2 separate regions of the Homo sapiens genome follow, and region 2 is linked to region 1. Evidence: fine-mapped expression QTL. Tissue or cell type: whole blood. Region 1 holds a variant in brackets; the other region holds the start of a gene. All regions are shown on one strand. Distances are from middle to middle.

Region 1 (7,870 bases):
CCCCATCTCACTAAAAATACAAAAATTAGCCAGGTGTGGTGGCACGTGCCTGTAATCCCAGCTATTCAGGAGGCTGAGGCAGGAGAATCGCTTGAACCCGGGAGGTGGAGGCTGCAGTGAGCCGAGATCGCGCCACTGCACTCCAGCCTGGGTGACGGAGCGAGACCCCGTGTCAAAAAAAAAAAAAAGAAAAAGAAAAGGCCCTGCAGTCCATGGGAATCCCTACCAGGGACAGACCCTGGAAGACTCAGATTCAGGAGCCCCTTATGAAGGAACAGCGGGACAGGCCCCTCCTTACTGCAGCAGACCAAAAAGGCAAGAGATGCCTCAGGGGTCCAAATCCTGCAACCACTCCAGCTGGAGCACCCGGCAAGGAGCCTGGGCCCACATCAACCCTGCCATGTCACCACTGGCTGCATTTCCCTAACAGCCTTTCCTAATGTCCCCTGAACTGTGTCCCCCGAGAGACTATTTGGAGAGAGAGGCTCTAAAGAGGATTAAAGTTAGAATGAGGCCATAAGGCTAGGCCCAAATGCAATGTGGCTGGGGTCCTTATAAGAGAAAGGCAGCAGAGGCGTGCGCACACAGCTGTAAGGACAGGGAGAACATGGCGAGGGGAGGGGCCTCAGGAGGACCCATCCTGCCCACACCTCGGTGTCTGACTTCCAGGCTCCAGAACTGCGAGGTGATACATTCCTGCTGTTGAAGTCACCCCATCTGTGGTCCACTGCCACGGCAGCCTGAGCTGACGAATACACTTAATAACGTCCATTCTCGTGACTCTGGCTGGAAGGAGCAGCTCACAGGCTGTAGTGACAGAAACTGAAGGGCAGGCAGAAGCAGTGAGTGGCAGGAGAGGCATCTCACCCTGCAATTTATCCCCATGCACAGGTTCTACATACCCCCAAGACAGAAATCGAGCCCACTGGCACAACACTCTTAATACCAGCCACTCAACCACGCCCTTCTTGAGGCTTTTATCAGCACGGACCTCTAGAGACAGGAAGAACGGCTGGCTGGGGAAGTCTGGCTGTGCTGCTGAAGAGGACATCGTTGAATGGGCATCCAGTTCTCTGGCCCTGGTGGCTGGAATGGGGGCACCACCCACCTCGCCCAGGGGCAGGGTCTGCTTGGAGAAGGGACAGAGTCCAACAGTGACCAACTTTGAGTTCAAGAAGCTGGTGGGGCTGTGCGGGGTCCGGTCTCCGGAGGTGTCTCCAGCTTTGAAGACAGGCAGATGGAGACAGAAATATTTGGGGGTCTTAAGCACAGAGGTGACAGCAGCCCCCACTGTGGATGTCATCACTGAGAGCACCAGGGAGAAGTGTGGGGAGAAGGAGAGCTGAGGGCTGAGCACAGGCCATGCAGGCAAGGTCGTGCCCAGGCGGGGAAGCTGGCGTTGTGGCTGGGGGCAGAGAGGTGCCACGCCAGCACACGGCATCAGGGTGGGCCAGGGCTGACCACACAGGGCCCGGAGGACACAGGGTTCCTGGGTGCCTGCCACCCCAGCCAGCAGCCACAGGTCTGCCTCCACACCTCGGCCTTCACCTCCCACGGCCGAGTGAACACGGCTGGAAGGACATCTCGAATGTGTGCCCGTCACCACCGCAGTTTTACTCCATTTTTGGAGACAGTAACTTCCAGTGGCACATCCATGAAGGCAGACAGTCCTCTTGCGCATCACTCAAGCACATTTCATGCCCAGCTGTAGCAAGACCATGTAGTCTTTTGAACGACAGAACTGTTCTTCAGAAGTGGACCTCCCCTACAAAGGCCATGGACGACTAAGAGCTTGGGACAGGTCTTTAGGCCACACCAGCAGGAGCTCTAGACGCTAAATTCCTCTCAGCATTGAGACATCATTATCATCTTTTTTTTTTTTTTTTTTTTTTTTTTGAGGCGGAGTCTCGCTCCATCCCTCAGGCTGGAGTGCAGTGGCGTGATCTCGGCTCACTGCAAGCTCCGCCTCCTGGGTTCACTCCATTCTCCTGCCTCAGCCTTCCGAGTAGCTGGGACTACAGGCGCCCACCACCATGCCCAGCTAGTTTTTTTTTTTTTTTTGTATTTTTAGTAGAGACGGGGTTTCACCGTGTTAGCCAGGATGGTCTCAATCTCCTGACCTCATGATCTGCCCGTCTCGGCCTCCCAAAGTGCTGGGATTACAGGTGTGAGCCACCGTGCCTGGCCCATTATCATCTTAATTGTAATAACAACATTAAAAAATCAGCAAAGCTGTGCTGGATATCCTATTATGACCCAGGCCTGCACAGAACATTTCACAGTCTCTCTCAGTGAACCCTCCCACGATCCTGACAGTATGTTCCCACTTACAGACATGGAAACCAAACGCGCAGAGACTGACCTCCCAAAAGTCACACAAACCTGGGTGACTCCAGGGTCTGGGAAGCCTTAGAGAGATTTGGTTTTGAAAGCACATCTGATCTGGTAGCCTAAAGGAGGAATATCTCATGAAGACTATAAAGTGCTAAGCAAAAAAGTTCTTCCATTTTTCCCTTTAAAATTATGCAGTGCAGAGACTAATGTGGTCTGAGATAAAATATCACTAAGCTTGAGAAACGGTGGAGGCCAGGCATGGTGACTCACATCTGTAATCCCAGCACTTTGGGAGGCTGAAGTAGGAGGATCATTTGAACCCAGGAGTTCAAGACCAGCCTGGGCAACATAGTGAGACCCCATCTCTCCAAAAAATACAAGAATGAGCCAGGTGTGCTGGCACACCTTGGTCCGAGCTACTCAGAAAGCTGAGGTGGGAGAATGACTTGAGCCTGGGAAAGTTGAGGTGGCAGTAAGCCCTGATTGCGCCACTGCAGTCCAGCCTGGATGACAGGGCAGGACTCCTTCTTAAAAAAAAAAAAAAAAAAAGAAGAAAGAAAAAGAAAAAGAAAAGAAAAAGGTGGGAGGAAAGGCAGACAGTTCCAGATTTGTGCCAGTGTTTGACACAGACATGGAGTAACACAGTTCAGTCCATTTGCCAAAACCACTTCCAATGTGCAAACAACTGGAGGGGGCTTGTCCAAGATCAGGAGTCACCAAA[C/T]TGTGTTTTTTTTGCTACAAACTGGGAAGTGCCCCCTACATCGGCCTGCATAGATGAGGGATGAACTCCTCCCTCACTGGTACCACCTGCAGTTGGGACCATCTGAGGTGTGGCCATAGAAGGACACTGCCCTCCCCCAGGATCACCTTGGGGACTTCCCTCTGGGCTAAACAAGCCACTGAGAGAGTTCCCGCTAGGGCAGGGTAGCTGTTTATTCCCCTGGCTTTAATCAGGCTGATTTGGTGGCTTTGAGAGGTGCTCCCAACGTGGGCAGGGCACACCTGACACTTGAGGGGCCCCAGCCTGGCCACCTGACAAGTTCCTTCTGCACAAAGCCGCCACACCCTTCCTCACAAAATCCCTCCTGCAGGAAACATGTAGGAGCAGCACTAAACAGCTGGCTTTGGAATGATCAATAATTAACGAGGGTGCTTCACATCTGGCCACTACTTTCATTTAGGGTCACAAAGCCACGGTGCACACACAGTCTCAAGTGCATTGATGACTCATCCCCAGTAAGACAGGGCGCCAGCCCAGAAGCCTGGACTCTGAGTGCCCGAGTTCCTGATCTGCAGAACGGGGGTCTGTAGGATCGCTACAGTCTCCCCCAGCAGACACTGACCCATTTCCCCGTAGCCCTCTGCTCCCGTCCCACCCGCTTCACGCTCTTCTGGCTGTCACCAGACTGTCAACAGTGACTGTTCAATTAAGTGAGAGGCCGTGGCCACTATTTTGACTTCACATCTCCTGTTTTCTTTTTGAGCATGGTTTTTCCTCACTATTATTGTTGAAGTGAGTGTCTGATTTTGACTAACACAATCAGAAATAGTACAAATGAGCAGCGTGTTATATCTTGTCTTTGATTTGTGGTTTGGAATTAAAACAAGAGCTGTTACTTTGATTTTTTTATTAGAAAGATGGTAAGATTGCTTACAGGATTTCCATGAAATGGAGAACACAGACAGTACTGCTTGAGGTGCGGTGGTATATAAAATATGATTATGTGTTTAGTATCATTCTGTATTATTTCATTGGAAGAGAACAATTAATCCCTACAAAGAGAAAGCTCCAATTAAATCTGTGTTACATTCGACTAAACCTAGAAAAATCCGGATGCTTTGTGCCTTATAGATGAAACAGGTAATGTGTTATTTTGCGGGGATGTTTGTTTTTGAGACAGGGTCTTGATCTGTCATTCAGGCTGCAGTACAGGGCTGTGATGATAGCTCACTGCAGCCTCCAACTCCCAGGGCTGAAGGGATCCTCCCTCCTCAGCCTACCAAGTAGCTGGGACGACAGGTGTGCACCACCACACCCAGCTAATTTGTTTTTTATTTTTTGTAGAGATGGGGTTTCACCATGTTGCCCAGACTGGTCTCGAACTCCTGGGCTCAAATATCCACCTGACTCAGCCTCCCAAAGTGCTGGGATTACAAGAGTGAGCCCCCATGCCTGGCCAGAATACATTTTTTAAGAAAAAAGAAGACATGTTAATGAACCTAACATGCAGACCAACTAGATTGAGGCCTCCCAAGTGAGGTCAGCCTGGGGGACTCCTTTGGCCAACTAACAGGAGAAGTGTGTAACACTTTAAACAAACAGCAAATGTGAAACCAGGACACAGTGAGGCGAGCCCTAAATGGGAGGATCACCACAAGAGATCCAAGAATCTTGTGGAATAATCATTAGTGCCAAGGCCGATGCCTTGGGAATAAGAAAACCCTTCTTGGAATTTATTTTTCATATGGTGGACCAATAAAGAAGTGTGTGTGTGTGTGTGTGTGTGTGTGACAGAGACAGAGAGAAAATAATTTTACATCACTTAAAAAAGACCAAACAAGACTCTAAAATTATCGCAGATTTCATATACACTCATTATACATCAGGCAGAGAAGTAGAAAGCCCAGAATGCCAGCAACAATAGCTTTCAAAGGTTTCTCCGCCATCAGCGCTGTTGAGATTTGGGGCTGGATATCCTTGATGGTGGACAGCTCTGGGCTCTGCACTTTGCTGAGCACCATCCCCAGCCTCCTCCTATAGATGCCAGTAGGGCTCCCTCCCTACAAGTTGTTACAACCTAAAACAGCTCCAAACATTGTCAAATGCCTCCTGGGGGTGCAAAATCGCTCCCGGTTGAGAAATGCTGCTTTAAAACACCCAGGACAAAGATTCTGGAAAATGGATTATTAAGTAAATGTTTACAGAACCAATGTATTTTTAAAATCATGAAGGTGAGAACTCAGCACTGAAACAGCAATGGCAAAATCCGCAGTGGGAACGTGAGCCAAGTATGTTGCATAACGCCCAGAATGTGTCTTCCTTCCACCATAAACTGAAACATCTGCTCCTTCAGTGAGACATGCTAATGGATTCTGAATCTAATACTAAAAGTGAGAGGCAGTGAGAAATGATAGTTGGAGTGCTTTTTCTGGAGTGAATCTTCTGATACCAAAATTGCCAAAAATACAGTAGTGTAGACTAGATGCACAAAATGTATTTTCTGAACTACTTTCTATTCTGTATGTCTCCTCGAGGTGATGTGAGCTCTAAGAAATGTCCCAGATGTGTGGAAGCACATGTGTGCATGGAGCAGACTGCTCAAATGAGTCAAGCTGAATGGAAAATACTGGTCGCTCTGTGGTAAGTCAGAAAGGGCTGAATGTTGTCCCAGCGGAACTCACCCCCAGAGGGCAGGGCCTCTGGCCTCTTTTTAGAATGAAGAAAGGATGCAGAGTCTCTCAGCCCAGAGAAAGTGACACACCATGCTATGCTCACATCACATAATTACTCACTACAATGCAACACTGAACACCCAGATTAAATCTATTTTCCCCAGGAAACACTAGTTTGCGAAAGCAAAACGATGCCTAAACACAGTATCACTTACAAACCTCTTAGTAAGTTTTAACATGAAACTTTTTTTCTGACAAATCATTTCTACTGTGGCCTTTTCTGCATATAATGGTACATTCTCAAAGTATCTTAGTAGACCTCAAGACATCTCAATAATACTGCCCACTAGTAATGGATGTAAAACACTCCGGGGCACTTCTAGAGTTTTCAAGGTAATTTCTTATGCATTAATTCATTCATTGGTATGACAATCCCAGGAAATGGGCCGGAGTTGTGCGCTCCTTATTCCTACGGAGAAGTTTTGCATTGTAAATATTTTTTCCTAAGAGGCTGTAACAATTCACACTCCTCCGTCAGTATCTAAGAGTCTCCAGGCCCTTTTTTCTGCAAAACCAGCTGCTTCGTCTTTTTAAAACCTCCCTGCAAGTGTTTTTTTTTTTTTTTTTCAAGACCCTTGCTCTGTCGCCCAGGCTGGAGTGCAGTGGCACGATCTCGACTCACTGCAACCTCCGGCTTCTGGGTTCAGCAATTCTCCTGCCTCAGCCTCCCCAGTAGCTGGGATTACAGGCGTGCCCCACCACACTTGGCTAGGGCAGGACATCTACTTTTCTTTTAATGTGCATCTCCCTGCCACCCAGACCACTTGGCAGGCTCCTCTGTGAATTAACTCTGCATGTTTCCCCTTCAATCTTTCTTTTTTTCTTCTTCTTCTGATTTATTTAGTTAGAGTCAGGGTTTCACTCTGCTGCCCGTGCTGGAGTGCAGTGGCACAATCTAGCTTACTGCAGTGGCACAATCACAGCTCACTGCAGCCTCGACCTCCTGGGCTCAAGCAATCTTCCCACCTTGGCCTCTGGAGTAGCTGGGAGTAGCTAACATGCACCACCTGCCCAACAGTTTTTTAACTTGGTTGTAGAGACGGAGTCTTGCTATGTTGCCCAGGGTGGTCTCAAACTCCTGGGCTCCAGCAATTCTCCCGCCTCAGTCTCCCAAAGCACTGTGATTACAGGTGTGAGCCACCGTGCCTGGCCTCCCTCACTTTTTCTATTGTATTCTTTCCTCTCTTCTTGACCACGAAACCTGTGAGAGCATTCATATTGAAAATATTAACCCCTTTTCTGTCTTTTGCTTTGGAAATATTTTTCTCTAAGAGCCATGGTTTGTCGGTTTTAACATTTCTAGTTGTAGCATAATTTTGTTATATAATCCTTTCAGATGTTTATATAGGTAAATATATCTGACTTCTCCAGGCCTGGCTAAGACAGTCACCTATGTCCCTGTATTATACATGTTGTTTCCAAGTATTGCTTGTTTGTTTTTTGTGGGAGGAGTGCAGAGTATTTTTTTTTTAAAACAAACATTTAAATGGTCAAACCAACTGATGTTCATTTTCCTCTGTTACGACCTGAGCATCCAATGCTGCTTCTTCCAGACAGCCAATTGTGTCAATATTGCTAACTAGTTCTTTTCCCACTGAACCTACATACCCACTCTGTTACAGATAATATCATTTGATTTGGGCTTATTAGGTTCCATTAATCTACTTGTCCTTTCTCATGTCAACCCCACATGGCATGGTAGTACAGTATGTTGGATCAGTGCCACCATTAGCTTCAGCGCTGAGAGGAGTCTTCATGCAAAGGTACCTGCTCAGGGTGGAGCCCAGAGACAGGGCCCTGGGCCAGCACACTGGGGAGGTCCTGCTCTGCTCTCTGCAAAGACAGTGGCCACCAGCCCTCCCCCTGCCCCAGCCAGTCTGAGGTCCCATAGCCACCAGGAGGGCTTAGGCGGGATGCCCCAAAGCCTCAACAAACACCCATGCAGGTCATTTGTCATAGAAAAGGGGGCCAACCCCAGACCCACGTGGGTGACAGATGTTGCATGTATTTAAATGACCCTGCAAATGCTCCCGGGGGTTAGATGGCCTACTGCAGCCTCTATGTGGATGTCCAACCCCAACCC
Region 2 (6,418 bases), 75 kb after region 1:
CCCTACAGTAAACTCTGGGTGAAACCAGCCTCCTCCTCCTTCTATTCCCAGGGCCTGGCACCACCTCTTCCAGCCTTTCTGGGACTGGAAGAATTTGACCTGCCTTCCCAGGGAACAATAAACAGAAGTAGGGCATTGCGCCCACTGTCCTCAAGGCAGCTGGGAAGTGAATGAAAAATGCTGACAGTTCCTTCAGTAAGGAAGAAGACAGAGTCTGAGGGAGAGTTAAGATATCTGGAGTCAAGGGCAGAGTGGAAGGGGAGGGGAACGTAGATGGGTGTAGTCCAAATGGAAGCTAAAGTTTCAAAGTCCCATGAAGCCTTACAAGGTCACAGAGACAAGAGAATAGCTTTTAGATCCCAACCTCAGTTTCCTCATCGGCAAGATGGGTGTGATAGTTACTATAAGGATCGAATGACATAATGGATTCAAAGCACTTTGCCAACTGAAAATAAACTGTATTTCTCCTGAGGCATAAGTATTTCTAAAAAGGAGGCTACAGGAGTTACGGGCTCAGTAATAACAGGAAGTGGTATCTGTGCAAAGGCTTAAAACTGTTGAGCCCCACCAGGGCTATGTGGTGGAGGCCTCGCTCAGGGGACACGGAGGCCATTTGTGTAAGGGGTGCCGCTCTTGTCCCTGCTCAGGCTTCTGGTGAACAGGGGCCAGGAAATCCCACAGCCCGGTCTAATGACAGTCACTCTTGCTGACTGGCCAAAGAGCAAGGCTTGGGAGCAGGCAGAGTGGTGTTTCTGAAAGTGTGGGCCATCATATAAGAGTTACGTGCACGCTAATCTAATACATTCCTGGGCTCAATCCCAGGCCTGCTGAGTGAGACACTTTGGAAAACTGTAATTTTAACAAGCGCCTTCAGTGACTCTTACAAAAGTTTCAGAAGCACGAGCAAAGAAATATTCAAAAAGCTGTGCGGGCGGGAAGACCTGGGTCAAATCCCAGTACCACGACCTTGCTGCTGTGTGACACTGGGCAGGTTTACTTAACCTCTCTGAACCCGTTTACTCTGTTTACAAAAATATGGAGCATAACCACTGCAGTGTTGCTGGGAGGGTGAAAGGTACTCAACTACAGAGGCACGCATCCATGGCTTCATCCAAGCTATGAGTGCCTGTGTCTAAGGCATTCGTGAATGCCTACGTTTAAGAGGCAGGAGCCACTCTGACCCTCCTCTTTTAGGGGAACAATCTGCCACTAAGAGAGCATAGGGCTTCCTAGAGTCTCCCCATGCATAATGGAAGCCAGATACCGCTAATGTTCTATTCAGAAGCCCATCTCAGTCCCTGTTCCGGGGTCAAGCAAGGTGAGGCAGGAGGTAACGATGGGCTGAGCTTTGGAGGAAAGCTAAGACGACCCACCTTTCTCAGGGACAGGGCCTTGAGGTGGTCCAGGCTGCTGGACACAGCTCCAAGATGGATCTACCAAGGGGCTCTCCTGGGGTGGAGAGCATAAAGGATGAAAAGGCCGCAGGCCTCTGGACAGGTCCGCCGGAGACTCTAAAACTCAGGGAGGGAAAAAGAGCAGGAGTGGTCCATCGCAGGGTCACCCCTGGTACTGCCCGTGGCAGGGCTCACAAACACCCCACAGCCTCTTTCCCCCAGGAAGCAGGTTAAGATGAAGAAAATTAGGCAGGCAGCTACCGGGCGGTGCCTGGCTCGCGGCTCATGGCTCACAGTGGAGGATGGACACTGCTGTTATTTCCCCTGCCCTGGTACCTGGGCCGTGCCAGACATATCAGCACTTGGCGGCAGTTTCACTTTGCTGCTGTCCTGAGCCGAGCTGTTAGCAGACTGAGCTTTACTGTCCTGTGCCGGCTGTTCAGAGACCACTGTGCCTGGCCGAAGACTGAGGCAGGGACTTCAGGCCAGGGGGCCAGGCTGGCTTTTCCTGCCTTTCACTTCAGGTGGGAGCGGCTGTGGATGAGGATGTCCAGCGGCCGTCGGTTTCTAGCCTTGGGATCATTCTGGCCCCGACACGGAGTGACAGGGGATCCCCACGCGTCCCCGCATCCAGGGCGCCCCTTTAGCTGCGGCGGAGGCACAGAGAGGCCTTGGCGGCGCTGTGGCTTCGGTCGGCACCGGGTCCCGCGCAGCCGGGCCCTCCACCCTGAGTGGAGCTGCCTTCTAAGCACCCAGCCCCTGCCAATCACTGTGCCCAACACCAAGTTCCCGGGGCGCCCTGCCCTGCGCCACCGCGCGCTCGCTCGCCCGCCCGCCCAACTCACCTGCTGAAGACCAGGCAGCCCAGGTGGTTGATCTTGTGGTCGGAGCGGTGGCGGCTGTAGTCCTCCCACAGGTCCCTGAAGGCCGTGATGGCCAGGATGAAGAGCACCGGCGCCAGTGCCAGGCCGGGCTGGAAGGCGTTCACCGCCGGCACGAAGTTGAGCAGCGCGATGAAGACAAAGTACACGTTGGCCGGGCGGTGGAACTGCTCGAACAGGTTCTTGGGCAGGAAGGACAGCAGCGTGTACTTGGTAGTCTTGAGCCGGTTGTCGGCCAGGTGCTGGGCACACCCGCGCCGCCGTCGCCGCTCGCCCTTGGCCGCGCCAGCCGCAGGGTCCTCGGCGCCCGGGGGCGGCAGCAGGTTGGAGCGCACCGTGCGCGTCCTGCCCTCTCGGCGCCTCCGCCGTCCCGGAGGCCCGGGCTCCTCGGTCCCCGCCGGCTCCCGCTCCATGGCCGCGTGTCGCCGCGCCCGGCTCCTCCGCCGCTCACGCCCGCCCGCGCCGGCCTCTTAGGTTATCATCACTCGCGGCCCGGGCGCGGCGGTGCGAGCTCCCCGCCTGCGGGACGCACGGAGACCGCGGTCAGCGCGCCGCCTGGCCGGCCCAGCGCGCCCAGCCCGCGCCCAGCCCCGTCCACTCCCGTCCAGCCCCGCCGCCCGGCCGCAGTCCCCAGGGCGCAAGCTGGGCGGGTGCCGCACAGAGCCCCCTTGTCCTCGCCGCCCGCCCCCGGCCCGGGTCGTTTCCGCCGCGGTGGCCACGGCCCCGCCCTCGTTCCGCGCCCGGACTGGGCCACGCCGGATAGCGGGAAACAAAAAAAGCCCGAGCTGGAAACTTCAGAGAGGTTTAGTTTCGTTTCCCAGAAGCATCAGTTCGGTCCCAAAACGCTGCAAACGCGCGCTGCCTGCAGTAGGAGAGAGGAAACCGCGAAGCGCGAGAAAAGGCGCCCCCGTCCCCAAGCAGCCCGCGCGCCCTTCCAGGGGCCAGACCTGCTCCATCCTGGACGGCGAAACGACCTCGGGAGACCCCGGTTAGGACCTTACTCCAGGGATCAACTGGAATCAAAATCCAAAGGATCCATGGCATCCAGTGCTCCAATTTTTAAGTCTTTTTTACGCAGGACCTCTGCTCCTGGGGAGCCCTGGGAAGGGCGATTCCGCGTTGCCTCTAAGAACTTCTTTCCTACCCCACTTCCCAGCCCCCACCACTTTCAGATTCCGTTGTTGGGCGAACTAGACCGTTTCCTTTCCACCATCATCATTACTGCCTTTCCTTCCTCTCCTAAATAAATTCTTTTTCTTTTTTCTGTTCTTTCTTCATGGAAAGGAGAAATATATCGCTATAGCAAAGACAGAATTTGGTTTGCAGGTATTTGAGTGTCTGTTTCCCTCCCTGGGAAATCATGAGGACCGAAACGCTCCTTGTGCGCTGTAGCTCTGAGGTGGCTGTCATGGCCCGGACGGCGGGGGAGGCGAGGATGGTTGTGGGGAGGCGAGGATGGTTGTGGGGAGGAGAGGGGAGCGTCAGGAGGGTGTCCCAGAAGTGTGGGGCGAAGGGCTCCCCTCCACATCATGGGGCATCCGAGAAGGGGTGGGAGAATAAGCACGGCATGGAAAAAGGAGCTGGGAGTCCCCCACGTCCGCAGTGAGACCCCACAGATGTTTCATGGCTGTGACTGTTTGCCTCCCACTCAAGAAGTACAGAGATGAGAAGCAGTTATTTCTTGCCCAGGAGGCCGTGGCTGGGCGGTTGGCCGTGGCCCCAGGCTCTTCCTGGGGGTGCCTGCTAACAAGGCACTGCCCTGGATGGACTCAAATCACGTCTTCGCCAGGACCCTGGCTTGGGGAGGCCCTCCCCTCCAGCACCCTGGCTTACCCGGCTCCAGTTATGACATTCTTACATCTCTGCCCAGTTTTGCCACCATCCACAATGTTGCCCAGAACCCAGTGTTAGAAGGTAGAGTGGTGACAGGTGTGAAGAAAATAATCCCATCCCCCAGTCACAGGGGTGGGCTTTTGACATGTAGAGGCCCAGATCAGGGAAAGGTTTGGCTGAAGTCTGCATTGTTGGGGAAAGGAGTCAGGTCTCACAGTCAACCAGCAGAAACCCAAACGGAGCATCAACTGCAAATGAAGGCCCACAGCGCCTGCAGTCTTGAGGCCTCACATCCCATGGCTCCGTGTTTTCCTCTACCAGCCCACCTGGTGACCCCCGAGGCCTTCGGCCTCCCTACACTTCGGCCTCCTGTCTTCACAGGCATCCCCGTGGACCCTTCGCCCAAAGTCTCCAGGGGTGTCCGCGCCTACCAGACTCCCAGCTTCAGCCAGTCCACACTGTTGCCAAAGTAATTACCGCCTCATTCCATTTGCTTACCCTGGAGCTTCCAGGAGTACTCCTGGTGCTTACAAAGCCAAATGCTGATTCCTCAGGCAGAGGTCCCTTGAGGCCCTGAGGGGAACCAGCTTGCTGATTTTCTTCAGCCCCTCCCTGGTTCAGGCCCAGCCCCAAGGTGAGAGGTCTCCTTATCCTTCTCAGAACAGTCCTTACTCATCCCATCCACATTCCGCTCTAAGGTTCCAAGATTCTGTGAGTCACAATGCTCCTCAAGTCTGGAATCTTTTTCCACCTGCTCTTCCCCAGTGCAAAGTCAGGATTTCCAGGAAGGCCTAGCTCAGCTCACCTCTGGAAAGGTCTCCAAGCTGTGTGATCTGGGGAATCGTGGAGGGGTTTTGAGCTCAGGTGTCTTCTGCCAGCTGGACTCTGAGACCCTGGCCTGCTGGGGCGAGGATGAGGCTCTGATGTGGTCTGGTCAACTCTGGGTTGGCCATCTGCACCACAGGGCTCTAACAAGGGCCTGCTATAGGCCATGAGAACCACTGTAAGTGTCCTTGTTCGGCAAATACTTACTCATCCCCTGCTGTATGCCCGGCAATGTTCCAGGCACAGGAATTCATCGGAGAGCTAGAGAGGACAAGATGTTGTCATGGAGCTGCAGCAACTGAACGAAAAACCATGAGAGCCCACGGAGGGCTTTGGAAGGGATGAGGGATGGCCTTTTCGAAGAGAGGCACTGGAGTTGAAACCTGAATGGGACAAGATCAGGTGGAAGAGGCTTCCAGACAGAGGGGGCAGCTCTGTCAAAAGGTCCCAAAGAAGGAGAAATCTCAATGTGTTTAAGAAACAGGTGGGGCTTCTGCCTCACACTCATTCTAAAACCTTCAACCCCACAGCTTCTGCTTTAGGCAATGGGGACACCTGGGAAACACAGTAAGTTTCTGCTCCCCGGAACACTAAGTCCTCACGTGGGAATCCCAACAAAGATGGCTCAGAAAATGAAGGGACACCTGAAACCAGGGCTGGGAGGGGTGGGATCCTGCTCTTGCTCCTGTCAATTGGGCGGTCCAAGGAGGCTTCTCAAGCAACACTGAGCGGAGGCCTAGGGACACAAGCTGTGCAGGCACCTAGGGAAGAAATGGTAAGCACGGGGCGGGATAGGGAGCGTTCAGGGATTTCAGGCCCAGCAAGGAAGCCGGGGTAGCTGGAGCTGAGTGGGAGATTGGAGACGTGGCCGAGAGTGAGGTCATGTGGGGCCTTGTGGATCCCGGTGAGGATTTTGGCTTTTGAGCGAGAGGGAAAGCTTGGGAGGATTTTGAGAAGTGGCATCAAGTGGCTTTACCGAGGTTTCCAGAGATCACTCCTGCTGCAATGTAAATAGAATGTAGAGGGCCAGGGCAGAAGAAGGGAGACGTCGTGGCGAGCGGCCACTGCAGTGATCCTGCAAAGGTGCTGTGGCTCAGGCTGGGTGGCCATGGTGGATGTGGGACATAGCCTCCTCAGAGCATGCGGGACATGCTGTTGGAATGGTTGTGGGATGTGCAAGAGAGGAGGTGAGGGTGGCCCAACAGCTAAAAACCCAAGTTTCATCTAGTGAGTTGGGAAGACAGAAGATGAGGCAGAACTGGAGGTGCCCACCAGCCCTCAGGAGCAGGAGTCGTGCTGGCAGTGGTGATGTCAGTCTGGGGTCAAGAGCAGGTCTGGATGCAGGAGAGGGTAGCCATGAGGAGCAGCAGAGTGGCCAGCATTTAGGGCTTCACTAGCCTTTGGAAAGGACAAGTCTCTGGATTTGCTCCAACTGCAATAGGGAGCCATGGGCTGCCCCAAGCAGAGAGGCGTGAGATGAGAAGA

Evidence for each region. PIP is the estimated chance that this variant, and not a neighbour inherited with it, causes the effect.
Region 2: ATP10A starts here. The variant in region 1 is fine-mapped to the expression of ATP10A in whole blood (INTERVAL, PIP 0.95).

The regions. Positions count from the first base shown.
Region 1 is chr15:25,784,748-25,792,617 of GRCh38, forward strand. All of the region lies in intron 1 of ATP10A (ATPase phospholipid transporting 10A (putative)), which reads right to left. Among named protein-coding and RNA genes, the nearest start is that of MIR4715, 60 kb to the right of the region's middle. RefSeq lists an enhancer at 5,550-5,649. The variant C/T (reference allele first, on the strand shown) is at 3,056.
Region 2 is chr15:25,860,409-25,866,826 of GRCh38, forward strand. It overlaps ATP10A (ATPase phospholipid transporting 10A (putative)), which reads right to left and starts at 2,919. Exons shown (of 21, transcript NM_024490.4): 1 at 2,240-2,919. The coding sequence starts at 2,688. ATP10A-DT (ATP10A divergent transcript) reads left to right here and starts at 4,862. Exons shown (of 2, transcript NR_183988.1): 1 at 4,862-5,500.